Homo sapiens: one gene and its partners. The protein of the gene in region 3 purifies or fractionates together with the protein of the main gene of each other region. This does not show direct contact. Each region holds a gene or a part of one and is shown on either strand. Other genes may lie near its edges. The genes, in order: SPICE1, NPTN, HAUS5 and TNFSF8.

Region 1 (7,961 bases), on a different chromosome or scaffold from region 3:
TTTCTATTTTTATCTCCATTTTCCCTTGAGTTTGAAATTTTTCATTTAAAAAATATTAACTCAGTTGGGCATAATTATTATTCTCAGTAAATAGTTAATGAGCACCTACTAGGATTAAGACTCCTGGGTACACAAAGATGTATAAGATATGGTCTGTATCTCTCAAAAGCATTAACAATCTGCCCATTGAGATTGGGCACATCCTTATAAAGACAAATGATATACATTAGATGTCATATACTCAATGCCTAAGTTAGGTAGTAATAGTTCAGAGGAGATAACTGTTGGTCAGTTTCAAAAACAGGACTTCAAACTTACTATAAAACGACAGTAATCAAGACAATGTGGTACTGGCATAAGGATTGACATATAAATCAGTGAAATAGAATTGAGAGTGCTGAATAAACATTTATATTTATGGACAAGTGATTTTTCAACAAGAGTTCCAAGATCATTCAATGGGGAAAGAATAGTCTTTCCAATAAATGCTGTTTGGACAATGATTATCCTTTAGCAAAAAATAAAGTTGGGCCCCCCTCCCACCACACACCATACAGAAAAATTAACTTAAAATGAATCATAGTTCTACATATAAGAACTACAACTATAAAACTCTTAGAAGAAAACATAGGAGTATGTCTTTGTGAACCTTGGGTTAGGTAACAGTTTCTTAGGTATGATACTAAAAACTCAAGTGACAAAATAAAAAACAGGTAAATTTGACTTCATCAAAATTAAAAACTTCCCTGCTTAAAGGACACCATCAAGAAACTGAAAAAACAACTAAGAAAATGGGAGAAAATACTTGCAAATTATATCTGATTAGGAACTCAAATCCAGAATACATACATAATTTTTATAACTCAACAATAAAAGCACAAATAATCCAATTTTTAAATGACTAAGGTATTTGAATAGACATTTCTCCAAAGAATATAGTAGAAATGGCCGAAAAGTACACAAAAGGATGCTTAACATCCTTTATCAATTAGGGAAATGCAAATTGAAACCACAATGAGACAGCACTTTACACCTACTAAGAGAACTAAAATGAAAAAGGTGACAGTAACAATGTGAGGAAACTGGAAGCCTCATACATGCTGGCGGGGATGTAAATGGTGCAGCCACTTCATAGAACAGTTTGACAATTATTTAGAAAGTTAAATATGGAGAAATTATATGACTCAGCAATTTTACTCCTAGATGTATACATATAAAAGAACTGATAATACATGTTCACACAAAAACTTGTACATGAATGTTCACAGCAGCATTATACCTAACAATGCAAAAGCAGAAACAATGCAATGTCCACCAACTGAACAACAGATAAATAAAATGGTAGATCCATACAATGGAATATTATTTGGCAATTATAAGGAATAAAGAACTACTATGAGCTGGGCGTGGTGGCTCATGCCTATAATACCAGCACTTTGGGAGGCTGAGGTGGGCAGATTCCTTGAGCCCAGGAGTTCGAGACCAGCCTGGGCAAGACGGCAAAACCCTGTGTCTACAAAAAATACAAAACTTAGCCAGGCGTGGTGGCATGCACCTGTAGTCCCAAGTACTCAAGATGCTGAGGTGGAGATGGCTTGATCACAGGAGGTGGAGGCTGCAGTGGGCAGAGACATACATGCTACAACAGGGATGAACCTTGAAAATATTATGCTAAGACAAAGAAGCTAGACACAAAAGGCCACGTGTTGTATTCCGCATATATCAAACGACCAGAATAGGCAAATACATAAAAGCACAAAGTACATTGGTCATTGCCACAAACTGGGAAGAACTGGGCACAAGGAGTGACTGTTAATGGGTAGAGGGTTTCATTTTGGGGTAATGAAAACATTCCAAAATTAGATAGTGACAATGGTTGCACAACTCTGAATATACCAAAAATCACCAAACTGCACACTTTAAACAGGTAAATTTCATGGTATGTGAACTATATCTCAATAAATCTTAAAAAAAAAAAAAAAAAAAAAACCTAAGTGGAAACATAAAAAAAAAAAGTAGGATTTGAACTAGGATAAGGAAGTAAGGTAAGATTTGAACGGGTAGAGAAGAAGGTACAGAAACTGTTCCAAGTAAGGAATGGGGGCTCAGACATGGAAATACACAGAAATTATTACACTGACTAGAACAATATGTTTGTATAGGGAAGTAATAAATAATGCTGAAGATATCTATAGATTTTTTAAAAAGGCAGATAGATAGATATATATCAGGCAGTACTAGACTGAAGAGATTTCAACTATAAACCCAACATATTTAATGAAACTCTAATACATACTAATTGATATTCCTAGCTCAAATCAGGAAGTCCAGAAGATAGGCGTTTTGATTTTATATAGACATAAACAAGATTAAACATAACTGAACAACTTCCAGGAAGTGCCTATAGTTTCTATTCTAAAGGTTACAAGTCAAATACCAAATAAAACACTGAATAAATGACTTAAGTTTTGATATTAAACTCACCAGATCTTCGGGAGTTGCCCGATGAACGGTTAGATCAGTCACGGTATTCTGTAAAAAAAGGTGGCCTTTCTTTAAAAAAAAAAAAAAGTTTTCTTATAAAATATACACATTTATTGGATTTTAATGGCTAAAATGGTTTCAAAATCCTAGGACCAAAAATTCTTTCTTTCTAGGAACCAGTATTCTCAATTTAGATATGAACACATATTAGTTTTAGGTGTCCTATTTATAGAAAATAACAGACTAATTTTAGATGTCTTACAGAAAATAAGTACTGTATTCACCAAGCAGTCATACACTATAGTAAAACAATGAAAATACTCAAAATGAATATATGATATATGAATAAATGGTAGTATATATTCAAAATGAGTAAGTTTAACTAAAGTTTTAGTTTTCACACTGTAGTCTATGGAATCCCAGGATTCCACAACGTAACGCTAAAGGTTCCTAAAAGAAAGTGAGATCACTGGCTGGGTACAGTGGCTCATGCCTGTAATCCCAGCACTTTGGGAGGCTGAGGTGGGTGGACCACCTGAGCTCAGGAGTTCGAGAACAGCCAGGCCAACATGGCAAAACTCCATCTCTACTAAAAATACAAAAATTAGCCAGACCTGGTGGCGGGCACCTGTAATTCCAGCTACTCAGGAGGCTGAGGCAGGAGAATCACTTGAACCTAGGAGGTGGAGTCTGCAGTGAGCCAAGATTGTGCCACTGCACTCCAGCCTCAGCAACAAAGCGAGTTTCTATCTAAAAAAAAAAAAAAAAAAAAAAGAAAGTGTGATCACTATAGAGAGGTTCAATTTGTGTCTGCAAACATCTTAAGCATAGATGCTACTACAATGGAAGATGAAATTTGAGGGCAATGCATAATTTCATAAAATGTAAAAACAGTCAGTTAAATTAAAAGGCACTAAACTATCATGGCAGGGCTACCACCCTGCACAACTCCATAAGTTACCATTAATATCAGAGTCCGTGTAAATAGCACCCCTTGAAATTGTGTGGTACACAGGCTGCACAGCTCTAAGTAGCAACCCTGTAACTTGGCCCTTTCCAAAGCAACTTCAGCCATTTTGCTACACAGATTTGGTAAGGCAGGAAATAAAACAAGTTAGTTTTACTTCTAAGTGACGAGGAATACGAACAGTCAAAAATGGCTTCTGATCAAAGACTAAACTTTTTGGCCATGATTTATATTTGGCTCAAGGCTTTTCTGTATGAAAACTGTTATTACTTTTACAATGATTTAGAAAGGTACAAGAGCCAGGCATGGTGGTGTGCGCTTGTAGTCTCAGCTACCCAGGAGGTTCAGGAGGCCGAGGCAGGAAGATCTCATCATGAGCCCAGGAGTCTGAGGCCAGCCTGGGCAACATAGCAAGACCTTGTCTCAAAAAAAAAAAAAAAAAAAAAAAGGGAAAAGGAAAAGAAAGGTACAAGGTACAACTACAGGATCATGAGAATTGTTTTTAATAGGCATTTAAAAACTCAGGCATACAAGTAAGTGATAGGCTTGAAATTTGTTCTCATGGAAGAAAATAATAATTCCATCAATACTAAAACCATTGCTTAAAACCATTTTCTTTTGACATTCCATTTAAATCTAATCTACAAGCCATTTCAGAAAATGTTTCACTATTTTTATCAAGACAGTAATAATCAGTTTGATCTCTTCTCCATCATTTACCATTTACTCCAAATGACTTATGACTATTTTCCAAGTTCAGTCTACCTTCAAAAAACAAAAGATTTTTCCAGCACTGCAGATAAAATGAGGAAGGTTCTTAATGCAATTTCAAATGATAGATTTCAATTAAGTTTTAAGCAATAGTGGCATATTGGAATAAATGCAGTCATCCCACAGTATCCAGGACACCCACATATACCAAAATCCACACATACTCAAATCCCACCTAATTGGCTCTCCATATCTGGGTTTTACATCCTGAAAACACTGTATTTTCAATCCACCTTTCGTTGTAGAGGTGGAACCCCAGGATACAGCCAACTGTATTTATTGAAAAAAAATTCATGCGTAAATGAACCCGTGCAGCTCAAACTCATGTTGTTCAAAGGTCAACTGTACTAAACTTCTCAAAGTAACCACTCTGAAGGGGAAAATATGTTATCACATATTTTTTTTTTCCGATTTATCAGTTTCCTTACCTTAGAGTCACATCCTTGTTATTAAAATTTTATAGCCAATCAGACAGCAACAAAACAATCTAAACACAGAGAAGTCCCGCTGCCCCACTTCAAAGGCTGTCAGTTTGCCCAGGATATCTGGCTAACATGGTAGGTTGCAAACAAGAAGATTCCAAGTCCAAAAGAATCCCTGAGATCCAAACTAATCCCTAACTAGTTACTCTTCACAATGGAAAGTAAAGACACCTAAAGTCTCATGGTCCAAACCAAAGTATCAGGTCACAAAAGAGAAATCTAGCTGGGTGCAATGGCTCGCCTATAATCCCAGCACTTTGGGAAGCGAAGGCACGAGGATCGCTTGAGGCTAGGAGTTTAAGACCAACCTGGGCAACACAGCAAGGACCTGTCTCTACAAAAAATATTTTTTTTAAGTTAGCCAGGGGTGGTGGTGCATGCCTCTGGTCCTAGCTACTCAGGAGGCTAAGGCAGGAGGATTGCTGGAGTCCAGGAGTTTAAGGCTGCAGTGAGCTATGATGGCATCACATCACTCCAGCCTGGGTGACAGGACATGACCCTGTCTCTTAAAAAAAAGATATAAATCCCCTTGGTAACACCAGGCAATATTCAGGTTAGGAGCCATACATCACATGTTACAGGTACTTCAGCCTTGTCTTATACCACAAGAGAACATTTGTTCTGAAACCGATCAACCTCTGGAATTGAGCAATTCATGGGATAAGAGAGCAAAGGTCACCTATTTTTTTCAGCCAAAACTGGCACTCACATGGTTATGATATCACTGGTTGCTCTGAGCAAACCTAAAAAAGGTACCGAAAAATTCACAGACTTCATTGACACCAGTGAGCTAGAGTTGCCTTTATGCAGTGAGTTCTCAGAGTCAAAGTGAAAAGACGTTTTTTAAAATATGCTCCCCATCCCCTTAGGATTCCAATTCTTCAGAGGATATAGAGGTTACAGCCTGGATGTGTGTATTCTAAAAACCTCCCCCAAAGGATTCTGCTTTTCCCTCCAAGACCTAGAATATCACATGCCCAGAAACCTATTCCACCCTATTACGTGATGAGCCCCATTCAGAACACCATCTTGCATGACTAGGGCCATATCACTGTGTCCATTTCTCCAGAGTAATGTTACATTATTTACTATCCCACCTATACTCACATCCCATTCTTGTTTCACTGAAGTTTTCTTCTTCTTTACTTTCGGTGTCTTTCTTACACCAACTCGGGGACCACAGCGGTTCACTCTGACAAATGACATCTAGGAATAATAATCACATCAAATTTTTAAAATACAAGAAAAAACAATAAGCATCACCAGAGTGGGGGAAGACACCTGAAAAAAAAAACAAATTTTAAAATGCCAGAAGAAAAATTTAAGCATGATGAAAGGAACAGCCTATCAAAATACTTAGTTCTTTTATTTTACAACTAATAAATGTTGGTACTGATAATTATAATAAAAGAGGTCTCAAGTCAATAACTTATATATTTGATTAAAAAAGAACTCTAGGAATGCAGAAATTATGGCCTAAAGCCGAGAACTAAGACATTCGTCATAAGCTTTGTCATCAGTTACACAAATTTACAATTAGTAGAAAATAGCCCAGTCACAAGCTAACAATATGAATGTAAGGTGAAGGGAAGAAAGGGCAAAAGAGAGTTGGAGTTCTTTTTTAAGCACTCTAACACTCAAAATCACTACCAGGTACATATGGGCTTACTTGAAAATAAAAGTAGCTAAACTTTAGAGAACAAATGAGGTATGATATCACTTCTAATATATCTGTCACATAATGCTAAATGGTGCTAATTATTGATTTTTTTCTATTGCTGATAAACAAATTAATAATTATTGATTTTAAACTAGAATTTTTAAATTGCCAACATTAGTTTGCCACTGTTTAAACAGCAATGCTAAGCACACTAGACTACACATTACACCAAATTAGAAAAAGACCCATAGTCCCCGAACACCAGGATTTTACAATACATATATATGACTTTTAAAAAGCAATACATATACATGACTACTATTGCAGACACTTTTAACCTACCTAAATAATTACAGGACTTTCCAGCTGACCCCCTTACTCCCAATTAGTCTAAAACAAGGACTCTAGTATTTTCCTTAAGTACTTTTTTTTAAAAAAAAATCATTGTCTACTATAATAAAAATGTCTAAATACAAGTATTTCTTAAGAGTTTGCCCTCAATCTTCCTTGCACTCTGTACTCTCTCTTAACAAGAACATTCACTCCTTAAACATGGTATCTAATTTCAGCATTTACAATTTCAGCCAAAGAAAACAAGTCACATACAAGTTAGAAAATAACATTTAAGTTTTATGATGGTAATGATGATGATAGCCACGGTGGTAATGATGGCATCAGCTAACAGATACCGTGTGCTTACTATAAGCCAGATGCTATTCTAAGCTCTTTAAACATTATTTTCTTGAATCCTCACAATAACCCCATGAGGTACTTACTATTTATTCCTCATTTTACAAACGAGAAAACTGAGAGACAAAAGTTAACCAACCATGAAGGTCACACAATTAGTAAGTAGCAGAGCCATAAGTACCATTTAAAAAGATACAGAATATAATAGAACAAAGAGTCTAAAACAAACCCTTACATTTATGGTCAGTTTTTCAACATGGGTGCCAAGACAATTCAACGGGGAAAGAATAGTCTTTTCAACAGATGGTGCTGGGACAACTGGATACGCATATGAAAAAGAATGAAGTTGGACTCCTACCTCACACCATATTCAAAAATTAAATTGATTCATGGATTTAAATATAAGAGCTAAAACTACAAAATTCTTAGAAGAAAACATAAGAGTAAATCTTCGTGAGCCGTGGGTTAAGCAATGGTTTCTTAGAAATGACACAAAAAGCACAAGCAACCAAAGAAAAAAATAAATTGGACGTAATCAAAATTAAGAATTTTTGTGCTTCGAAGGCACAATCAAGAAAATGAAGACAACCAATAGAATGGGAGAAAGTATCTGCAAATCCTCTATCTGATAAAGGACTTGAATCCAGACTATATAAAGAAATTTTACAACTCGACAATTTAAAAAATCCGATTTAAAAATGGGCATAGGACTTGAATAGACATTCCTCCAAGGAAGATACTATAGACAGCTAATAAACACATGAAAAGATGTTCAACATAATTAGTCATTAGGGAAATGCCAATCAAGATACCACCTCACACCGACTAGGATGGCTATAATCAAAAAGACGGACAACAACAAGCACTGACAAAAATATGGAAAAACTAGAATCCTCACATATTGCTC
Region 2 (7,961 bases), on a different chromosome or scaffold from region 3:
AATGTCACTTTCCAGCCCAACAAGCTGGTAACATGCAAAGGGTTGCATGGAGGTGTTTTAGCGACAGTGCCTCCGGCATAGCTGCCATGCCTGCAAGTGGGAGCAGTTGAGATTCACAAGGGGGCAAAATCCCAGGAGCCCTCTTCATCTGTCTCCCCAAATCCACTTTCACACTGACAAACAAAAGAGCCTCATGTCTCCCCACTCTCCTGGACTGAATCACTATCTGCAGCACCACTCTCCCCTACAGGTCAGACAAAAAAACGACTTGACCCCTAACAGGGAAGTCAGGGGAGAGGGAAAGAACAGAATTACAGAAAAAAGATACAGAAACCAAAGTAAATGAGGATTAAACAGCAAACTGAAATCCAAATTAGTTGTGAAAGTGAATGAAGTAAACTTGAAGAAAAGTGTTAACATTATGAACTGTGCATCGTATAGACTGAAGCGGAGATTAAACAAACTCCAAAAGCATGCATATCGCTCACTTACCACCATGTTTTAAGGGTTTGATGCAATTGAGGGGGGAAAAAAAAGAAGTCATAGTAACCGACAAATATCAACATACCCCAAACCCTCAGGCCAAAAGATAGCCAGCTTAAACAATGACTGTTCTCTCCACCTCAGTATTACAGCCACTGGCTAGATGAGAGGAAGAGGACTGGGGGGATAATGGAAACAAGATGCTTCTGGAATCCACCTTATGAGAGTGAAGTTACCGGTGGAACTGTAGCACACACTGATTTATCTGCGTGTTCCATCTTCCCAACCGAATGGACCACAGCCCTCACTCCCCCTATATCCGCCTCATCATCTAGAAGGGGTGCTCTGCAATGTCTAGTAAATAACGGATTGCCTAATACAATATCACCTCCAAAAAGATGGCTTTAAAGTCCGAATAATGAAGAGTTGACTCTCTGGTCAAAGGTCCTTTGTCACTGCATTCATCTCACTAGAAGGTTTTATGGTTTCTAAATCCACTTAAATTTTGCCTGACCTTAGCAGGTTAGCATTAAACCCAAGAGAGACTGAGTTACTTCCTATTTCCTTCCTTGTTTGGTCCTATTGCATTTTCTCCATGAGGTAACTTGTTATTGACCCAGATGGCCCCTAGTTAACAGACCAGACACCGAATGCATGTTTTAGGTGTCATTTTAAAAGTCACATTTCTTTTCCAATATCCCTAGTCTGTATAAAGCTTCATATGCTACCAAATGTTTTGACCAACGAATAGATTTTGGAACATTAGAACAGCTCTTCATTCTAAAGTGTCTAAAAGAGCTTGGATATATCAGAGCCACTAAAAATGGCCCCCCAAAAAACCTCAAATATCTTCTCCATCAGTAACTTAAAGAGAGTCCCTTTGACTTGCTTATAAAAAATTATCCCAAGGTAAAAACAGAAAGTTCTTTTTTGGTACCAGCACTTCTTTTCTTAAATCAGCTCCTGTTTTAATTTGCTGTCTGTGAGGTCACTAAAATATCCAGAAGAACTGCAGGCCTCAGCAACTAAGTGGGTTCACTCCCCATTCCTCCAGGGCCTGGGGAGGGGAGACTCAGGAGCACAGGCTGACTGCTCCTGGAGTGCAGTCCGCAGGACACCAACACAGAAGGTGCACCCAAGCAGGTGCCCAGCTGTGACATGGATGGAAGCCTAGAGGCTGCTAGCTTGACCTGGTCTTTTTAGAGAACTATCATTTAACATTTTCAGGGAATACAGTCAAGTGGTGAGTCAAGTGAACAAAACAAAGCTCTTATTTGACTCCATGATTCACTTGTTCCTGAAAATACTGAAGGTAAAGGTGATCTGTAGATTAGTCCACCTACAAGACAACCTAGTGGGCACTGATCCTCAAAGAGACCATACAGGGGACTAAAGGAATGCAGGTGGGTGTTTTCATGTAGGAAATGGTCTGAGAATACTCCAGTAGGTAAAGAAAAAAGACATGGGGCTTTTTTTTTTTTTTTTTTTTTAAAGGAAGCAGCTAAACCTCAATCCTAAGCATTTTCAATGTGAGAAATCTAAATATTTGATTTTCTAGTGAAACATACTTAAACTAAACTATGTAAGTTCAAATTTGTGCTTTTATACTTTTGTATTGTTCACTTAGTGCTTTTGTAGTAAGGGGATGAGTTACCAAGAACTCACAGACTGCCCAAAATATGACGACTGTGCATTCATATAAAAAAAGTTCAGTGAGTCTGAAATGAGCCATGGGTGTATCTTGATAATAAAGTGCTATTTGGCAAAGTAGAAGTATGGCAGGCCTATAAAAAAATTCCCATTTTCCTAATGGTATAAAAAAAATCCAACACAGAGCCACAGATGGTTATCTGATAGGTAAACACTTATGACCTCTTAACACTCCCAAGTTTGTGTCAAATATAATGTACCTCTTCGTTTATTCCAAAAGGAGTGTACGTATATATCTATATGAAAATTTGGGGAGAAGCACATGGGAAGGAAGCAGACAGGTAAGTTTGTCCTTCCTATGGAGTGCACAGGGGTTGAGGGGAACTGGCTAAAGAAGGAAAAGGCAGAGAAGAAGGAAACTCACCAAAGAACATTCAACTTTTTCTTTTGTTTAATGATTACTTCCAGGAAAGGAGAAGAAAAGCGGGCAGGGGTGGAAGCAGGATGGAGTTTGAGAGAAAGACAGAAAGAGACAGAGGAGAAAAACAGAATGGAAATACTGGAGCAAGGGCAGGGTGTGAAGATGGAGAGTGGAGCCTGGCCCACACTGGCTGTCAGGAAGGGAAGGAGAGAAGGCAAACATTGCCATCATTCCAGCATCTCAGATTTTTCACCCCAATGCAACAACAACGAAGTAAACGCTGCTTTCATTACAATACTCTCCCAAGAGACTAGAGCAAGGAGGTTTTACTTTGCACTTACCCTGCCGTCATCTCTTTTAAGGGTAGGATTCATTCACTGTCTATAATAACTTAGTTTAAAAGAGGTACTTTCCCTCTAGGAAGCTGTTCAGATTTGCTGGCCACAGATGTCTCCTATAACAAACTGGTCCCCCATTTGATTTCAGTAACCAAGAAAACTCTTACAAAAAAAGAGCTGCTTCCCTGGGCAGGTGTCTGCACTTATCCAACAGAACAATCCTAACCATTTCTCAAATCTAACCTACCACATGCACTGTGATAGCAACCTCATAAGCGCGGTGACTTCTTAGGGCAAAGACTAGACCTCTGCTGGGAACACGCTAGGCTGCTGCATCACTCTCACCAGTGGCAGCCAGCCTTGCCTTAAAATTTAAAAATCAGGTTCTGAAGTCCATCTCTGCCTTCTCTTACCTGACTTTTTAGCTTCTCAACCTTTCCAAAAGGCAGGCTGAGGAAGGTGGTATTGGCAAAGCAAAAGCATTCTGGGGGGATAAAAAGGCCCTTTTCAGGAATGAGGCATAACTGATCCCACAGAGCCAAAGCTGAAAACACACGAAAGACAGGCAACTCTTTCCCTTTACTCCCAGGTCTAAATAAAGGTGCACTCTTGCCTTGGGAGTCCTAATATGTAGCAGGAAAGAAATACCTGGAGAGAAAAAGCATTAGGAGTACATGAAATCCCAAAGAAAGCAGGTTCACTTCATAAAGTAGGAAAGTAAAACTCATGGGGACACTCCCAGGTTGCAGGAAACTAGAGATTCATTTGCAGAGGCCGTCTGCTCCCAGCCAACGTCCTTCCCACGCCTCTGCCCAGCTCACTGCTGAGTGCACATCTGGAGGGAGTCACCAGATATTGTCAGTGTCATCAACAAACCTCCTCACCAGCCACTCACTCTACTTACTGCAGGCAGAGAGATTTATAACTGCTGAGAAGAAAGGAAAAGATGGGGAAGGGGCTGTTGCTCTCAAACATGTCCTCCCAGAGAGTCTAAAGCCACTGGCATGCCTCTGGGGCCACATTCTTTCTGAGGGAGCACCAGATGTCACTTTGTATTCTCCACTGGACAGCCAGCTCTGTGGGGCAGGATACAGCACCACAGGTGCACAAACACAGGCCCCAGAACAGCTGGACTACAGCTGGCAACCCCACCATCACCCCGGGTAGGCTACCACTGAGCCCAGGGGCACACCCATCTGTCTAGTCTAGCCAGGGACAGACTAGTGGTGGTAACAGTCGGCCAATTAATTTCTGTACGCCGGTCATGTTATAGGGTGGGGATGGGGAGCCAGCTGGGAACCTGAAGTACTGCAGATACAAGTCTCCATCAGCAGCTTCCCCCTTCACAGGAAAAATCGATCACCAAAAATTTCCCAAGGCTTTTCTGACTCTAGGCATATCCAATAACCTAAGATTTCAGCTCTTGCTCTTTCCAGTGCTCAGTGGTGTGCTGTGGTTCTGCTGCTACCATCTCCTCCCTTCTCTGACCCTAGGCCAGCTTGAGGGCACAGCCTCGGGGCATGGACTCCATTTGTTCCGCCTTTGCTATCTCTGTCTTACACTAGATGGGTGGATACATCAGACTCTCCTTTGTCTGTGAGACACAGATGGAAAGCCACCCAGCAGAGAGCGCTGGAAACCTATCAAAGGGACCAACCAAGGAACCAAAAGCTGGCTTGTTCCAATGGCTTTTCTGAGAACAGTCTGACTGGGCTGGGGCAGTTACCTACAGGGGCTACACCAGGCAACCATGTGACAACCAGTTAGATACCTTAAATCTGCCTGAAAGGCCAGGTGGCCTGCCATCTTGGGGTGGCTTCTAGGCTTGACTTGGATTCTCCTCAAGCTCAATCTGCCTGATGATCTGTATTGAAGGAGGACAGAGCTGAACAAAGAGACTGACAGCTGCCCATTCACCACATGGGGCCTGAAAGGCAGATGGGACTAGGGTTTGGAAAACACCCAAACAGAGGGAGAGAGCTAAGGACAGCTCTAGATGGCTAATGCAAAAAAAATAAAAATAAAATAAAAATAAAAAATAAAAATAAAAAACTCTTACGGGTAGGGGGTTAGGAACTGGTATAAGAATTTTCCTTCTTTCCTTTAGGGATTGAATCCCAACATCCCTATAGTCCTCTTTGGGTACTTGGAAACCACCCGAAGGAACCAACCCCAGCAGTACAGCTATTTTGTAGGGATGCTCTTACCGTCAGGAACCTCATCTGGCCTCTTCCTCTTCTCATACACAACAATGATCACCACAAGGATGATAATTTCAGCCAGAATTCCCAAGAAAGGCCAGAGTGGGGCCAGGTGGCTCCGCACCCTGAGGACAGTGACAACAGAGGCGGAGCCAATGGCGTTGGTGGCATTACATTCATACTCGCCAGGGTCTTCCGTGATCTGCAGGTTCACAATGTTCAACTCAGTGTAATTTTCCTTGTTGATGATGAAGAAGCGGCCAGAGGTATTGACAATGTCCTGCAAAAAAGTGAGAATACACAAAGGTGAGAGTGAGTAACTGAGCTAATGTTCAAGAGAGGGTGACACTGCTCTCCGTTCTTTTTAGGCACCAGCCAGAATGAGGAAGCAGTGTCTAGGAACATTTCATTAATGATTTCCCTTCAGTATCAACAACAACAAATCAACTTCTGACAGAGCCAGGCAAGCCTCCCTTACCATCGGTCCTCCAGACTTCCCCGACTTCCACGAAGTGAGTGCAGGTCCTACTGCCTGGAGACTCAGAAAAGTCCAACAACCTAGTAAATGCTGCCTCCAACACCAGGTAAGAAACCACAGCAGAAAGAGGACGGCAGAAGGAGGGGTACAACCCCTACAGTCAGGCATGCCTCGGGGACCTCAGGCCTCTCTGATGACCTCAGAGTCAGCACACTGACTTCACACTTGGTGAGTTCTGAGGAAGTCTCCTTAAACTTCCTCCACAAACAATGCTAAGAACTCACTCCTAGTCAGACTGGGGGAAATTCATAACTTTCCTTTCATTTAAGGACTAGAGGTTAGAGGAAAGGTTATTCAATCAATCAACAAATATTTGTGGCTGGGCACAGAGGCTCATGCCTGTAATCTCAGCACTTTAGGAAGCTAAGGTGGGAGGATCGCTTGAGCCCAGGAGTTCAAGACTGGCCTTGGCAACAAACTGAGACCCCATCTCTACAAAAAATCAAAAATAAAATTAGCTGAGCATAGTGGTGTACACCTGTGGTCCCAGCTACACAGAAGGCTGAGGCAGGAGGATCACATGAGCCCAGGAGGTTGCTGCACTCCAGCCTGGTAGACAGATCAAGACCCTGTCTTAACACAAAACAAAACAAACAAATAAAAGAGAACAAATATTTACTAAAATATGCTGCATGCTTTATATCCTACTAAGGGCAGGTGGGAGTGAGAAGGTGAGATAGGGAGAAGACAGACCTAGAAATGAATAAGGAGCTTGGCCTCAAAAGGGAACCAGACATCCAAAAAGGGATGACTGATTTCAGGAATGTGTTAAGAAGCCCCAACAGAGCGTGTGTATAGAGTGCTGTAGGGCACAGTGAGTGGCCACTGCTGGAAAGAGTCAGGGAAAGCTTCACACATGAGCTAACATTTGCACTAGACTGTGGAGGAGGACAGCTGATCAAACAGGGAGGAGCAGTGCAGGCAGGGATTCGCATGGGTGTGAAGGCAGAGGTGCAAGAGTGCACAGGCAGAGGTCGGGACTCAGCGGGATGGCTCACTGCACTCAGCTCATGAGATCCCGGCAGGGAAAAAACAGACTCATGTGTCTTTACCCTGCAACAACTAAAGCACAATCAGAAATAGGAGAGAAAAAGGGGAATATTATCCTGGAAATGATTCTAGATATGGCATACAATCTTGTCAGCATTTGAGTGCAGGTACATCTGAAATGGGGAACTCGTAAGCTTTTAAAACAGCTAGTCTGTGATGCCTCAAGCTTCATCTTTCAGATTAAAACACATACTGCGTTAATTCCAACCTGCTTTGGCAAAAGCTCAAGGGCACTCCTTCCCAGTGACCAGCAGAGAGAAGTGGACATTTCCTCTCCAGTGCCTTAGAAAGTTCAGTGTCTTGTAAAAAAGACTCAGCATCTTCACCTCGGCAATCCTCATCCTGCTCCTCGTTAACGGGTCTCTGAAATCATCGCTGATGTTGGAGTCATTATCACAACTCAACATTTTATTATCAAGATGTCATGAAGTAGGAAGAATAATGGACTTGAAATTTAAAAAAACTAGATACAACTCTTGGTTTTGCCACTAATTTATCTTGGCTACTATGGAACCCTTCCAAAGAAGATGGATTAATGATCTTTAAGGTCCTTTTGGATTCTGAAGACTGATAATCAAAGAGGATCCATGGGATCAGAGGAACGCTTGACACGCTCTCTGACAGAAAAGGTAATGGGTCAACAATCATAATGAGAGAGAAAGTGAGGTTCTAAAGCTCTGACTCTCCAAACAACATCATGAATCATCCCACTGATCGGAAAAGATGTTCTCTTTGACATTTTCTGGGGCAAATACCGTCAGGTTCCCAATGTCTAAGGCTGCCAAGGCTGCCCTTGGGCCTCCTCAGGTTGCCCCGATTCCTTATCAGTATGTTCTGTGTTGCAGGAATGTACTAGTAATTGCCCTCAGTACCTTGGGCCTCCTCAGGTTGCCCCAATTCCTTATCAGTATGTTCTGTGTTGCAGGAATGTACTAATAATTGCCCTCAGTACCTTGTTTCCTACTAAAAAAACAAGGCAGGTTCTCTAAGACCACTTCAAAAACAGTATTTTCTTCAGGATAAATGGACGAGAATTAGGCTCGGTTCTTTCAGTGTCCTATCCTGAAGGCAAGTGATATGGTTTGGATTTTGTCTTCACCCCAATTTCATGGTGAATTATAATCCCCAGTGTTGGAGGAGGGGCCTTGTGGGAGGTGACAGGATCATGGGGGCGGATATCCCCTTTGCTGTTCTCCTGACAGTGAATTCTCATGAGACCCGGTTGTTTAAAAGTGTGTAGCATCTCCCTCCTTCACTCTCTTCCTCCTCTCCAGCCACCT
Region 3 (7,582 bases):
CTGCACTCCAGCCTGGGCGATAGAGTGAAACTCAGTGTCAAGAAAAAAAAAATACCATTAACTATGCCATTATGAATACCATCAAATTAATTTCTTAGTATCATCTAACACCCAGACCGTGTTCAGTTTTCCTTGTCTCAAAAATGTCTTTATACGATAGTAGAATCAGGATCAAAACAAGGTCCAAATATTGCATTTGATTGTCTTTTTTTTTTCCTGTCAAAACTTAAATTTTTGCTTGCTCAGATGTTTACCAACAAGAAAAACTTAGAGGCCAGGCGAGGTGGCTCACACCTGTAATCCCAGCACTTTGGGAGGCCAAGGCGGGTGAATCACGAGGTCAGGAGTTCAAGACCAGCCTGGCTAACGTGGTGAAACCCCGTCTCTACTAAAAATACAAACATTAGCTGGGCGTGGTGGCGAGCGCCTGTAATCCGAGCTACTTGGGAGGCTGAGGCAGGAGAATCGCTTGAACCCGGGAGGCGGAGGTTGCAGTGAGCCAAGATTGTGCCACTGCACTCCAGTGACAGTGCGAGACTCCGTGTCAAAAAAAAAAAAAAGAAAATTTAATTTTATTGGCTGCCTTGGTTTCTTGAAGCTGCAGTATGAATCAGTACAAATGAATACCTGCCTGCCTGCCATCTTTCTTTCTTTCCTTCCTTCCTCCCTTCTTCCCTCCCTCCCTTTCTTCTTTCTTTCTCCATTCCCCCTTTTGCCTTCTCTTTATTGAAGAAACTGGATCATTTATCCTATAGGGTGTCACACATTTTGAATTTAACTAATTACATCCTTTTTGTTTCACTTGTTTCTGACTGCCTTCTGCCCCTTTCCCATATGCTTGTAGTGAGAGCTAAGGCTAGATGAGATTTAGGTTTAATTTGGTAAAAGCACACTTCATAGATAATATTGTATGGTATCATATCCCTTGTATCCTATTGGATCCCATCAGAAGCACAAGATGTCTGGTTGCCTTCCTTTGGCATCAGGATTGATCAGTGGTGTCATCCTGGTCTACCTATTTTAAGAAGCCCAATCAACCTTTCCCCTAATAGTTTTAGTAGCCCTTGATCATCATTACCTGTATCCATCACTAGATTAATTAATAGCAAATAGTGGTTTTTGAATTCTAGTATTTTCTCTGAAGTTATTAGTTGTGATTCTTCCATAAATAACCTCTTCATCAGAAATTTGGTTACTTAGGCTGGGCACAGTGGCTCACACCTATAATCCCAGCACTTTGGGAGGCTGAGGCGGGCAGATTACCTGAAGTCAGAAGTTTGAGACCAGCCTGGCCAACATGGCAAAACCCCGCCTCTAATAAAAATACAAAAATTAGCCTGGCATGGTGGCGCGCACCTGTAATCCCAGCTACTCAGGAGGCTGAAGCACGAGAATCACTTGAACCCAGGAGGCGGAGGTTGCAGTGAGCCAAAATCTCACCATTGCACTCTAGCCTGGGTGACAGCACAAGACCCTGTCTCAAAAAAAAAAAAAAAAAAAAGTTGGTTACTTGTTCACATATAAGAAAAATAGAGAACATGCTGGATTATTTTATATATAAAAAATTTTTCAAAATAATGAGTGGGTTCCTAGTACTCTTCAAAGGTGATTTCAATGAGGTATATGAGTATCAACATGAACTTACACATTCAGGCATATTTGATGTGCTTCAAACCACTGTGGTTCTTTTTGCTGCTCAACATGTCCCACCTTTGGTGAGTGACAGCCCTTCAGACTGGCTCCTGAGTTCCTTTGACTTGGCCACAGTAGTCTTGGAGGACTCTTTGCTTCCTGGCACAAAATATCCTGGACACATTTTGCACATTTCTTGCCCCAGACCTGGAATCAGCTGTTTTCACAAAAGTCCCTAGTTCTTAGTCAGAAATGGCACTTATAGAGACCACAGTCTGTATACTAGTGCTGCTCAGTGTTACTGGGGTGTCATTATATTTAGACCTTTTCAGGGGACTTAACTAGGGAAATACATATTTTTTAGAAAGAGAAAAATCATGACTTTATTCTGATATTTCCAATTCATGTGAAAGACTACAGGGTGTTTACTTGAGTTTATATTTGTTATCTTTTTTCATTTACACTAAAAATCTTGGTCCCCAATGACATTACATCACTACTTATTTGCTTTAGTATATAATTCAAAAAATATAAGGTAGAATCTCAAAAATTTAAACGGTCTATTTTATCAAAATAAAAATGCCAGTGTTATTACTAACAATGTGACTACTGTATGAAGTTGAAGATTTTGTTGAGTTCAGTTGAAGGTGGGGGCTGGGAACTGTGATGAGGAGAGAGAGGAGGAGCAGACACACTAAGGACTACATGGGAAAGCCAATGTGGAAAGGCTGGGAAACAGCAGCCAGGGGCAGGAGGAAAGCTGGGAGAGTAAAGGGACTCTGGAGGCCAAGAGAGGAGTTGTGTGAGAGATGGACAGCAAGGTTCAAGATCATAAAGCTGCCAAACTTCCAAATTTGAAAACTTACTGCAACACCAGTAAAACTACCATCTGTGCATGTTTTTCTTCTGGGGCCAGCCAAATTAAATCTAATGTTCACTTAGTTTGGGAAAAAAAATTTACTGAGACAGGGGAAACTAATCCCAGCAGGTGAAGATTTGGGAGGCAGAGGCGATAGAATCACTTGAGGCCAGGAGTTGGAGAGCAGCCTGACCAACATGGTAAAGCTCCGACTCTACAAAAAATACAAATATTAGCCAGATATGGTGGTGGGTGCCTGTAATCCCAGCTATTCAGGAGGCTGAGACATGAGAATTGTTTGAATCCAGGAGGCAGAGGTTGCAGTGAGCTGAGTTCATGCCACTGCACTTCAGCCTGGGAAACAGCCAGATTCTGTCTCAAAAAAAGAAAGAAAGAAAGAAAAAGAAAAGCACCTAAGAGAATCCAGCCATTTCAGATATGGCAATGTGGTCAGGCGCGGTGGCTCATGCCTGTAATCCCAGCACTTTGGGAGGCCGAGGCAGGCAGATCACTTGAGGTCAGGAGTTCGAGACCAGTCTGGCCAACATGATGAAACCCCGTCCCTACTAAAAGTACAAAAATGAGCTGGGCGTGGTGGTGCGTACCTGTAATCCTAGCTACTGGGGAAGCTGAGGCATGAGAATGGCTTGAACCTGGGAGGCGGAGGTTGCAGTGAGCTGAGATCATGCCACTGCACTCCAACTTGGGCAACAGAATGAGACTGCATCTCAAAAAAAAAAAAAAAAAAAACAAAAGAAAACAAGAACAGATATGACAATGTGTCACAAGCCTTTCTATTAAGCTACTGTAGGAATGACACATGGAGAGTTAAATACAAAGCAGGTCTGGAGAGAAGCCAGATATAACCCAATTAAACATGGAAATTTAGTGCATAAAAAGGTGGCATCTCAAAAGTGTAAGGGCTTTGCTTTATAAATTGAGTAACCCACGCAGTGAAATGCACAGGCCTTAAGACTACAACTACATGAGCTCTGACAAATCTCTACACCTGCGTCACCGCCGCTGCTCTTGACACAGCACATTCCCATCAGCTAGGACATTTCTGTGTCTCCTCCTCAGTTGATCCCTGCCACCCACCTTCCCTCAGAGGCAACTGCCACTCTGACTGGGAATTTCAGTAAGTGCTACTAGGATATATGTAAAATAAGACAAAATTGGATCCATGTGCTAGGATAAATTCCAAATGGCTGATTTACATGTAAAAAAAGAAACTATACAAACTAGAAGGCAATCTCATCTTTTAATACATTCCTCACCCCCAACCTACACTGTCCCCCTCAGTGGCCCTTATTGCAGCACATCCTGGCTCAGGGCCTTTGCATGTGCTGTTGCCTCCAGCTGCAAGCCCTTACTCAGCCACCCCTGTTGCTCCTGCTCACCCCTTGACGGAGCACGACCTGGGCAGTGTGGCCCTCAATTCAAATCACACATCCCACCCCCTGCTGGATTTCCCACACAGCAGTTAACTTGCAGCATACTACATATATATTTTCCTTATCTTGTAAACTCTGTCTCCCTGCCCTAGAACTCAACTGCTGGAAGACAGGGTTTTCTGTTTCTTTTGTTCAGTGTGGACTCCCCAGCGCCTAGAGGAGGTGCTCAATTACTTTTTGCTGAGAATGAAAGTGATGAAGGGGTTTTAGGGGGTGCTTTAGCGGGATGAAAGGACAGGGTCCAGGAGCTGAGTGGGGCAGCAGAACAGCACATGAGGGGACTGCAGGTGCGGGTGGGGACGACTGCCGAGGAATCCTGGCGCTGCTTTCTTCCAAATGTCCTGGGGGAGGTGAGGTGTTGGGGTGAACAGTGTCAAGTTCTCGGCTTCCGTTTGAACCCTCTCTTCAGCTGCACAGCTTCTGCAGGGCCCCCTGGGCCTGAACCCAGCGCAGCCGCCACTGGGGCAGGGACAGGCCCTGGCAGAGCTCCTCAGAGAGGGCGGCCTGGCCTGGCTGCTCCCACCTGGGGAATGGCATGGCGTCAACGAGGAAAGGACTGACCCTCCAGACCCTCCCTGCAAAACCATGGCCTGCTCCTTCTCATCAGGCCCCCAGCTTGAGTCCTGACTTTTCTGTTTCCCATCCGCGGCACGTTCCCCTCTCACCAGTCCCCCACGATCCCCTGCAGCTCAGGGATTCGCTCCAGTGCCTGTTTCAGTAGCTTCTCCAGCCTCTTCAGAGCCTGCCCCAGGTTCTCTTTCTGCTGTTTTTCCTGGGATGCCTGGATCTGCAGCAGCTCTGAGGGTGAGAAAGCCAGGAGGCAGCTTTGAGTCCTCTGGCTCGCTGGTACCTTACAGCAATGAGTCCCCAATTCTCCAGTCCCCTAGTCTTGACCTCAGCAGCTCCCGCAAACCAATGATGAGTCTGTCTCCTTCTCTTCCCAGCCTGGAAGTCCCCTTCTGAGGGACTGCCCTTGAGATGAGGACCTGTCCCTCCTCCCAGATCCTCATCTCAAGGGCAGTCCACCACCCCCAGCCCCATCCAGGCCTCCTTCTGGATGCCTTCCTCCCTCCCCGTGAGAGCCCATCAATCTCCATGGCCTGTCCGCTCAGTCTCCTGAGCGTTTCTTCCTCTCCTCTGCTCCAGGCCTCAGTCTCCTGCTCTGGTTCACCCTCCGCACTACACCACAGTGATCTTCCTGAAGCCTAAATTTGATGCTCTCCCTCCTGTCTAGAACCCTCCAAGGTTCTCCAGTGCCCCCAAGGCAGAGTCCAAGCCCTTCAGCAGGTATTTGAGTTTCATGATGTGGCAAAGCCTGGCCGATTCCCAGGGCCCACAGTAGAGAGTATCTTTCCTCCTGGAGGCCCCTCCAACACTCTCGCTCCAAGGCTTCCTCCTCCGCCTGCTCTAGCTTCACCCTAGCGGTGCTTTCCTCTGGGACTGGGACTGGGCCTACCTCTCCATGTGCACAGAACAGGCCCAGCTCAGCAAGTGCAGACGAGCAGCGTGATCAGACAAGCTGGGCCTGAATCCTGACCCCATCCCATCCCTGCCCTGTGACCTTGATCACGACACTGGCTCTTTGTTCAGCTCCGTCTGCTGTCAGGTGGAATTACTGGGGCAGGGGACCGATGGGAGAACTCTGGGGATGGGACCCTTAGGGCTTGCTGAGAGGCTGAAGCTGGTGAGGGTGGGGGGATTAGGGTGATGGAGAAATTCAGGATGACTCCTGGGTTTCTGGGTGCAGCACTTGGATGAGGAGGGTGAGATAATTTAACAAGGAAGGAAACCAAGAAGAGGAACAAAATTGTTTTTTGGAGTAGAGAGAACCAGGAGTTCCATGATAGATGTGTACAGTTCAAGATGCCCATGATTATAAGAAATATAAAATTAGCTGGGTGTGGGGTGCATGCCTGTGGTCCCAGCTACTCGGGAGGCTGAGGCAGGAGGATGGCTTGAGCCCAGGAGGTTGAGGCTGCAGTAAGCCAGGATGGCACCACTGCACTCCAGCCTGAGTGACAGAATGAGACCTTGTCTCAAAAAAACAAAAGCAAAAACAAAAAACACATGAGGTGGGCAGAGGGCGTGGTAGGCAGAGGCTGAGGTGGGCAGAGGCCGTGTGGGGTCTGGGGCTGCTCTCATTGCTCCTGCACACTGTTCCCTCCCCTTGTGAAGAAGTGGAGGGCAGGGAGCCCCAAACTCAGAGGCTTGAACAGTCTCTTCCTCCAGTGCTGCTGGCACTGCCGGTTCATTTCTCATCAATTCTCCTCTTCCATGTATTTATCCTTTCATTCTTTACTCTTTACTTCCATCTGGGGAAACCCCTGGGGTGGGGACCTTTCTCCTCACTCCCCATCAAGCCATCTGGGCTGGCACCTGGTAGACACCCAGTATTTGGTGAGTGAATCCAGGAATGAATGACTTCTCTAACCTTCAGTTTCCTCATCTGTAAACTGGGGTTCTTAAAAGTCCCTTTCCTCATCGTCATGACTCCAAGAGACTGTGTGTGTACACAGACAATGATGCTAATCACATTGGAGACACAGGGTGCTTACTGCATAGCAGGCAGTGTTCAGTGCCCTGTGTGGGTCCCCTGCCTCAATCTGCCCAGCACCTCGGTAAGATATTGCTTCATGCTTACTCCACTGAGGAGGAAGCTAAGGCACGGGGAGGCCACACAGCTAGGAAGAGACGGCAGAGAGGATTCCCAGGCTTTGAACTGCTGAGGTATACTATGTGACGGTGATGAATGAACACGTGGAAAGTCGACGGCAGTGTAGCTTAGTGGTTGGGAGCACAGACCCATTTCAGACCACCTGGATTCAAATTCCAGCTTTGCCATTTGGGCAACCTACTAACCTCTGCGTCTCAGTTCCCTTCTCTGTAGAATGGAGAGAACAGCAGCACTTACCTTATGGGACTGCCGTGCAGATGAAACAAGGGAGAATGTTTAAAGCCCTTAGCACACAATGGGCACTGCGTAAACAACGGGGTTGCTGGTAAGGACTCGTGGAGGCTGCTGGTAGTGGGAATGGGCGGGGAGGCTGGATGGGGTGGCAGGGCAGACCTACCCTGGGTGGGAAGGCCTGGCGGCAGGCTGGTCTTCATGTGGAGTAGATCCCAGCACCAGAGGCTCCGCTGGTCCTGCAGGAGCAGAAGGTCCTGGCGAAGAGAGGCAGCCGCCGGCAGGAGCAGCTCCGAGGCCTGGAGGAGGAGGGAAGGACGGTCACCTGGGGCGGGGCTGGGGAGACAAGTCACAGGAGACGGGCACTCACCTTCCCTGGAGGCAGCCCCAGCTTGTGGCTCAGCGCTATGAAGCTGGAGCCCCTTGGGGACGCGGGGTGCAGCTGGTGGATGGATGGGAGGACCGTGGGCAGGGGCTTCAACCTACGGGCGGGGAGAAGTCTGGGTTGGGTGGGGACTGAGAGGAGGCCTTGGGTTCTGGAGGCTCTGGGGGCCCAGGAACTTCAAGGTGGGTCTGGGGACTAGGATGCCAAGACCAGGGCTGCTGACCCAAGGGTGAGGTCTGGCAGCCTGGGAACACTGGGGGTCTGGGGTTATCTTTTTTGAGGAGGTTCAGGGAGTGACAGTCACCCATGGCAGGGGATGCAGGGCAGGGGTGGGGCAGCCCCAGTCT
Region 4 (7,961 bases), on a different chromosome or scaffold from region 3:
GGTGGCTTCATGCAAAAATCATTATTAACTCTGTCTTCTGGGTGAGAAAACTAAAACCCAGAAAGGAGAAGGGTGTGGGGGAAAGGTTCTCCTCCCAGGCGCTCTTCCTGGCTTACTGCCTGTGAGGTGTCAGTTGGCTGGGGGCTATCCTGGCCAGGAATGGGAAGCTTGTGATAGGACTCAGAAATCCTTTCATTACCCAAAAGGGTTTGATTTTTGGTGTTTCCTCTGTAGCGAAGTGTATCCTGTGTTTTTTCTTTAGCATGTGCACATAGCTCTACATCCCAGGCTCTGAGCCACTGCTGATTTTCTGCTGATGGTGGAAGATTTTCAACAGCCAGTGAAAAAGGGCTCCCTAGAAGGTGTCTAGCTTCTGCCCTTTTCCTTTCTAGTGACAAACCACATGCTGCCCCTGAAGCTTCCTCCCAAGAGTACCTGAAAGATGGTTCCCCTCTGCCTGGAATGTCTTGCAATGGCTTTTTTCAAAAGGGACAATTTACTGCTTCTGTGCCTGTTTAAGCTGGGTTCGTTGGGGAAGGAAGCTGTGACTTCAGATTTCCTTGAGATTTTTGTTAGGTTTTTTTTCTTCTATTTTTACATATTGTACAAAAGAATTATAGTCTCATAAAGGGTCAAAGCTGGAGAGACTCCTCCAGGGCATTTAGTACATTGCTGTTATATTACAGATGAGGCTCAGAGAGGAGAAAAGACTTGTTGATGTGGTCAGTTCTGGAGCCCAGGAATATTTTTTCTACCTCACCCTACTACAGTGTCTCTGCAGATTGCTGAATTAAGGGGATGTTGACTTGCATTAAAAGCAAGAGAAAGTCAGGTACTGCCTCCAGCAGGTCACTGGCATCTCATGGTGGAAGCCGGTCATGCAGGGAGAAGAGGGAGGAGCCCCGGATTCTCACTTGGCCATTAACTCCTTGTATGACCTTGGGCAAATCACCTGGCTTCTTTAGGCCTCAGCGCATCATCTGCAAAATGGGAAGACTATTCCCCATGTTGCTGTGGCTTGCTCACAGGGTTGAGGTGAGAATGAACCCAAAGGAGGTATGGGAAGGTCTTTAACAAAAGTTTCACAGTCCCATGGGGATTATTGAGTTGGTGCAAAAGTAATCATGGTTTTTGCCATTGAACATAACGGCAAAAGCTGCAATGTCTTTTACACCAACCGAATATTATTAGCATTTAAAAAAATCTGGTTGTGGAAACATTGAATTGTAAACTGAGGTTGGTTTTGATTACTTTGTGTTCTGATATTCCCATTCATGGTCCAGATAAGAAGAAATGTGATAAGTGATTTCGTCCATGGTTGTGAAAAGTTTGGACTTTATAGACCCAGGAAATTTCTCCCCAGAATGAAAATTCAGAGACCAATATGAAGTGGACAGCTTTTTATTTTGCCTATTGTGATGATTAAAACAAAACAAAATAACTCTGGCAAAAAACAAGCCAACTTAACTCCTGTCTATATCAACTTCATGTTGTAAAAAAAGGACATTTTGACACACAAAAATGAAGGACCGTCTCAGAGGAAGAGTGCCTCTTACATTAGATATAGTTGGCCCTGTGAAAAGGGGGCTACCGTGTCCTTATTTTTTGTACTTCACTTTGGACTGATGAAAACTTTATCAACTTTATTATGGTACCAGAATACTAGTTAGAGCCCCTATGCTTGGCGACTTTGCATTGAAGTGCTCTTTAGGCGAGGAAACTGAGATCCAGAATGGCTAAGGTCTTATTACCTAATCAAAACTATCCTCGTCACTGAGACCGTGTTCATGTTAAAAATCCCTTCTCCCTGTCAAAAAATGAAAAGTTTCCATCTTCCTTGGAAAGTCTGGGTGGAGGTGGTGGTGGAACAGTGGGAGTGGGGAGGGGCAAGTTATATTCACTCAGAGCCTTTTGGTTTTTCCAAAGCTCCGTGTGAACGTGCATTACATGTTTAACTGAAACATCTGTCTCCAAAGCCTGCAGTGACTCCTCCAATTCATAAGCCAAATCCAGCCCACCACCTCATTTGATAAATAACGTTTTATGGAAATGCAACCGTGGTTACTTATTTGCGTGTAGTCAGCCTGGCTCAGCACTACAACAGCAGAGCTGACTAATTGCAACAGAGACATAGTGACCCCCAAAGCCTAAACGTTTACTATCTGGCCCTTCGTAGAAAAAGTTTGCTTACCCCTGCATTCTACTATGCTCCTTTTAATATTAATGTGACTGTTTACATAGACATGGTAGGAACTGAGGTCACATGCTAAGTAATTCCAGCCAAAATGAGATATTGTTGACAAGGCTATGATTATTAGTCTGCCTTGAAAGATCCAGAATCCCTGTCTTTTGGGGACTTTTGCCCCTATTTTTGAAGTCTCTGGGTGATAAACCACAGGAAAGGCATGGGCAAGGGAAACTTGAAGGACACTCCAAGTGTGATGCTGTGAGTGTGAGGAGCTGTGTCCAGTCATCTGTGTCCTCTGGTCTCAAGGACACTCTTGTGCCACTACCCTGGTGCCTACATTAACTCACTTCCTTACTTTTTGCTCTGAGCTTTCTGGCTATCCAGCTGTGTTTGCCATCTAGGTTCTAAAGGTTACAGGACTGAGATGGGAGTTGGTGTTCTTGGGCAGAAAAGACACTGTATCAGAGATGAGGACATCTTTCTGGGTTCTAGGCTTGGCTTTGTATGACCTTGGACGAGATACTTCACTTTCCCTCTCTGGGTCTTCCTTTTCCTTCTCTGAGCAATAAAAACATTAATCAGGTCATCTGAAAATTTCTCATCATCGATGTTAACTGAACTCGGCATATCATCTCTCTGAGGCTAGTAGAGACGACGTGTTAATTAGTGACTTCAATGATTGGAAATATAGGAGTGAGGAGGAAGTCTGTTTTCACAAGTCCTTGACTTCATTATGCATTTTAGCTATTACTAGTTATTTAATGATTACTATGTGCTGGTTGCCATGCCAAGCAATTTACAGATGAGATCTGAATGGCTTCTCCAATACCTTGATGAGGTGAGTATTATTATTATTCCCATTTAACAGATGAGGAGTTGAGGCTCCCCAGTGGGAAGTCAAGCCAAGATTCATTCCCCCATTTATCTGATTTCAGGTTTCAAGCATTTAACACAACACTGCCTTGCAGTCCTGCCTATGCCAGAGGTAGAATTTTCATTAGTGGGAGTGTCAAGAGCTGGTGGGAGACTTGTGGGGATGAGTTCAGGAGCTGCTAAGATGAATTCAGGTGCATCAGCTCAGTCCTGAACAGCCCTTGCCTCCACCCCTACCCACTTTACTGTTGGGTCATGTCATAGAGTTGTTTCTGGTTGATAATCAGGTTTCACACTTTATGGCATTTATCTAGATGACTTACTACACATTTACACCTAATTCCAAGATCTTACCTCCTTTGAGGGGGACGTTGTCAGGTGAGTTGGGAATGGAGTCCTGGAAGAAAAGAAAGAAAAAAGCAGCATGAGGTGTGACATTCAGTTGAAACAACTTTTTTTTTTCTTTTTCATTTTGTTGTCCTTAAAGTACTGTGCAATTTACAATTCATCCTCCACCTGAATTTTAAAAATTAATTCACTGATGTAGTTTCCAATGGGCTTTCTATCCATTTGTTTGACAATCTATTAGAAATGCAAGATGAGGATTACTGTCCCCGTTCCACAGGCAAGAGACACGGGGTTGAGTGAGATAAAATGACTTGCCTAGGGCCACATAGTTAATTTATAGAAGATCAGGGACCAGAGCTGGGACTTTTTTTTTTTTTTTAGACAAAGTTTTACTCTGTCACCCATGCTGGAGTGCAGTGGTATGATCATGGGTCACTGCAGCTTCATCCTCCTGAGTTCAAGCGATCCTCTTGCCTCAGCTTCCTGAGTAGCTGGGAGTACAGGTGCACACCACTACACTCAGCTAATTAAAAAAAGGAGTCTTGCTCTGTTGCCAGGCTGGAGTGCAGTGGCACTATCTTGGCTCACTGCAACCTCCGCCTCCCAGTTCAGGTGATTCTCCTGCCTCAGTCTCCAGAGTAGCTGGGACTACAGGCACCCACCACCACACCCAGCTAAGTTTTGTATTTTTAGTAGACACAGGGTTTCACCATATTGGCCAGGTTGGTCTCGAACTCCTGACCTTGTGGTCCACCCGCCTCAGCCTCCCAAAGTGCTGGGATTACAGGTGTGAGCTATCACACTCGGCTAGAGCCAGGACTCAACTCCCAATCTGGTGCTTTTCCCCCCTCCATATGTTTGGGTGTTTTTTTCTTTTTTTTTCCTTCTGGTCAACATGAGAATAATCAAGTATATCATAAAAGTAGATGTGTTTTTTTTTTTTCCATGTTTGATTCATCTGTGAACGTATGTTGTAAACATACCTGGGAAGGTACATCTCTATGTCTCCTGTGGTTGGAAATTCTGAATTAATTGTGTGTTTATATGCCAAGCATTGTGAGGACACCATACATAATTAAATTGGGTCCCCATCCTTATGGATTTATTACAAGTTTATATTTAAATATACAAATATGTATACACATGTAGTATACATACAAATGCATATTATATATTTAAACATTTACATAGTATATTATTTATTCTGTAATAAATATATACATAAATATTTACACAAATAAGAGGTTGATAGAAACAGATTGTCTTTTGAAGGAGGGAATCCTGGGCTGGGGATTGAAGGTGACTAAAGGGAGGTTCTAGTTCAAGGACTCTCAACAAGGAGTTAACAGAAGCAGAGAGGCACAGTTCTTTTCCCCTAATAAATTCTTCAGACACTAAGTTTCACACCCTGATTGTCCCTCCCCTTTCTCTCCAGCCATGGAGACACCCATACAATATTCTGCCAATAAGGAATGAAGTATTTTATTCATCTTTTGACCTGCCCAGGTTGGAATCTCCTGTATTGCATTGAATTAAAATATTAGTAAAGACCTAGAGAGGTGTGAGCGTGTGTATGCGAAAAAACCAACTTCCTAACCTCTACCAAAGCAAGAAATTAGCAGCCGCCCACAGCTTATTTTCTTAGTGTTCTGTATGAACACTAGGACCATCTGGAGTTCCCCTATTATTGTAACATTTCCCTGGGAGGTCTGTCATTTGCCTTCCGCTGAAAGCTTGTTTTCTTATGAATGGATCTCTTCTCTAGTGCAAGAGGTTGGTAGTGAGTCAAGGAGGTCTCCTGAAGGCAAAGCCCTGGCACAGCACCAATCTGGAGATGGGGGAAGTCAGCTTAAACATTTGGGCCCTACCTTCTCAGGGGAAGGGAGGCAAACTTGTCCTGGAAGGCCCTTCCTACTGTAACAGTCTACGACTTTGTTGCCTTAGTTGAAAGCTTTTAACCTAACAAAGCTAAGTTTTTGTAGTCTTTCAGTTATGCATGCAGTTTGCAGGAAAACTTGATATCACAAAATTCCCCTTTATGTTGCCCTTGTGAGACAACACACAACATTTTAAAATTTAATAAACAACTTACAACTTACTGCCAAGCGTGACCATTGATTAGCATGATGTGCAAATGCACTAAGAAAAATATCTGCATTGAAATGTCTTACCACAATCATCAAATTCATCAAGCTGCCCAGGGACATATACAGGGACAGTGAGAGAGGCTAGAATAGCAAACCTGGTACAGCCATCATTGCAGAGGCTGCTAGCAGTTCGGGAAGTCCTAGAGAATCATTCATGCAGCACACCTTGAATGAGCACCTGGTCTGTGGTAGGAACTACGTTAGTCACTAAAAGACATCCTATGGATTTTATGCTTTAGTCATTAAGGCAGCCATTTAAAAAATATAAATAAATGTGTAATTAGAATTGCAGGTTGTGGCAAGAGCTATGGAGGAAAAGAATCATAGTGCTTTAAGGTAGTGCTGTTAGAACTTCAATGTGCATATGAATCACCTGGGAGTCTCGTTAAAATGCAAATTCTGATTCTGCAGATTTGGGGGGAGTTTAACATTCTGCATTTTTTTCTTTTTGAGATGGAGCCTCACTCTGTCACCCAGGCTGGAGTGCAGTGGCGCAATCTCGGCTCACTGTAGCCTCCATCTCCTGGATTCGAGCAATTCCTCTACCTCAGCCTCCCCAGTAGCTGGGACTACAGGGGCCCACCACCACCCCCGGCTAATTTTTGTATTTTTAGTAGAGACGGGATTTCGCCATGTTGACCAGGCTGGTCTTGAACTCCTGACCTCTTGTGATCTGCCCGCCTGGGCCTCCCAAAGTGCTGGGATTACAAGCGTGAGCCACCGCACCTGGCCAACATTCTGTATTTCTGGCAGCTTTCGAGTAATACTGACACTCCTGGCCCACAGAACACTTTGAATAGCACAGCTGTGAGAAGTAATATCAGAGAGGAGGACCTAATTTATATGGGGGTCAAGGAAAGCCTCTTTTCTCTCTGTCACTTGAATGCATTCTGGTTTCCTAATTTCAGACATGGGATGTCAAAAGCAGAGCATCTCAAACAGGAAAGAAACCTGTCATTTAAACCTTCACCCAGGGCCCAGGAAGTCCATGACAGAAGCGTGACTATTCCTATTTTGAAGAGCTCTTGGGATGAGGTCTTTACAGCTTCTCCTAGCTACCCATGGTAGTCAAGATTAGACAATCAAAGCCAGAGGGAGATTGAGACATCTTTCAGTCCATCAAGCTAATTTTATGGAGGAGGAAACCAAGGCACTCATGAGTCAGAGGCAGATCTTGGACTGAAATTCTCTGGTGTACTTTCCACTGCCCTAGGAGAGATGCTGTTTCCAGAAACAAAGGATAGAAGAGCTCATTCCTCCCTCCTCCCCTCTCCCATAAGCAGTCCCTGCATTTGGAGGTGGAGAAGCAATGTCTAAGGAGATGATGGCTGTTGAAATTCAGTGAAGACTGTTCATAAACAGGTATTACACTAAGTGTTGTTCACCAACTCCTCTTTGGCAAGATGTCCCCCAGTCCTAGAATTCTCTCCCTAATCTTGTCTGGGGATCTGGGTCCTAGCTCAGGAAATGTGAACTATCTTGCTCAATGACTTGGCTTTGTGTAAGGTAGTGCCTAGGCTGAATGCAGGCACAAACAAATGGACTCTCCCAGGTTTTCATTCTCAGCTCCACTGAGTAGCTCAGGAAACTTTGTCTCCGTGGTTATCAACGAGGTATACTTCCTTAAGTGTACTTCCTCTGTTTTTGGCCTCTGTAGATGTCTGATGAGTATTCCCAACAGTAATAAAGTTATTTTCATGTATGGAGGGAGGAATGGTCATGTTTAACCTGTTTGTCTCCAGGTAAAATGACCCCCATCCCAACCATCTTCCTTGCCTTGGAGTGTTTTCTTCTCCTTTAATCAGTGGTTAGATGGCTAATCATCCATCTTTCCACTGGGTTATTGTGGACATCATAAGATATTATAAAGTGTTAGCAAGTATTTGAAAAGCATAGCTATTTTGAGCACTGCCTTGGTGTTAATGATGTGCTTAATTTGCCTCAATACCTTGAAAGGCTTGTTTCTTTTCACAGAGGAATGATCAGCAGATGCAATGAGCTCCTGAATTTGCTTTGGACACAAAATGCCCCCGTGGACCAAAAATGATCAAAGGCAGCTCTGTTTGGAATATGCCAGGGGAAGTCCACATTCCTTTCCTTGTTGCCCTCACATAGTCTTGTAAGGTGGGCTCTGGCTCATGGCCCAAAGGGACTTTTGCCAAGGATACCTCTTATTTTCAAGCTAATTCATTGGGCACTTAATGAGGGTTACTCTACATGCACTATTTCATTTGGCCTTTAACTTGACCCCAAGAGTTACGGATTCATCAAGACTTAGAGAAGTGATTTCATAATGTGATAATGTTTATAGAAGGTCCCACAGGTGGCGAATAGCACAGAAGGGATTCAAACTTAGGTGTTTGACTTTGAAGGCACTGCTCTTCAATGTCCTGCTACATTGCCTC

What was found.
Region 1: the proteins of HAUS5 (region 3) and SPICE1 purify together in Homo sapiens (affinity purification with mass spectrometry; one large-scale study listed by BioGRID and IntAct). This does not show direct contact.
Region 2: the proteins of HAUS5 (region 3) and NPTN purify together in Homo sapiens (co-immunoprecipitation; one large-scale study listed by IntAct). This does not show direct contact.
Region 4: the proteins of HAUS5 (region 3) and TNFSF8 purify together in Homo sapiens (co-immunoprecipitation; one large-scale study listed by IntAct). This does not show direct contact.

The regions. Positions count from the first base shown.
Region 1 is NC_000003.12:113,500,696-113,508,656, forward strand, and holds part of SPICE1 (spindle and centriole-associated protein 1), read right to left. Parts: intron 5,911-7,961; coding exon 5,812-5,910; intron 2,533-5,811; coding exon 2,485-2,532; intron 1-2,484.
Region 2 is NC_000015.10:73,565,051-73,573,011, forward strand, and holds part of NPTN (neuroplastin isoform b precursor), read right to left. Parts: intron 5,374-7,961; coding exon 5,100-5,373; intron 4,757-5,099; coding exon of another isoform or gene 4,740-4,756; exon of another isoform or gene 4,664-4,739; intron 4,494-4,663; exon of another isoform or gene 1,888-4,493; intron 1-1,887. UniProt on the Homo sapiens protein: Probable homophilic and heterophilic cell adhesion molecule involved in long term potentiation at hippocampal excitatory synapses through activation of p38MAPK. May also regulate neurite outgrowth by activating the FGFR1 signaling pathway.
Region 3 is NC_000019.10:35,619,762-35,627,343, reverse strand, and holds the end of HAUS5 (HAUS augmin-like complex subunit 5), read right to left. Parts: intron 7,333-7,582; coding exon 7,221-7,332; intron 7,150-7,220; coding exon 7,017-7,149; intron 6,922-7,016; coding exon of another isoform or gene 6,905-6,921; exon of another isoform or gene 6,857-6,904; intron 4,744-6,856; coding exon 4,611-4,743; intron 4,469-4,610; coding exon 4,351-4,468; 3' UTR 1,989-4,350; downstream 1-1,988.
Region 4 is NC_000009.12:114,914,681-114,922,641, forward strand, and holds part of TNFSF8 (tumor necrosis factor ligand superfamily member 8), read right to left. Parts: intron 3,459-7,961; coding exon 3,416-3,458; intron 1-3,415.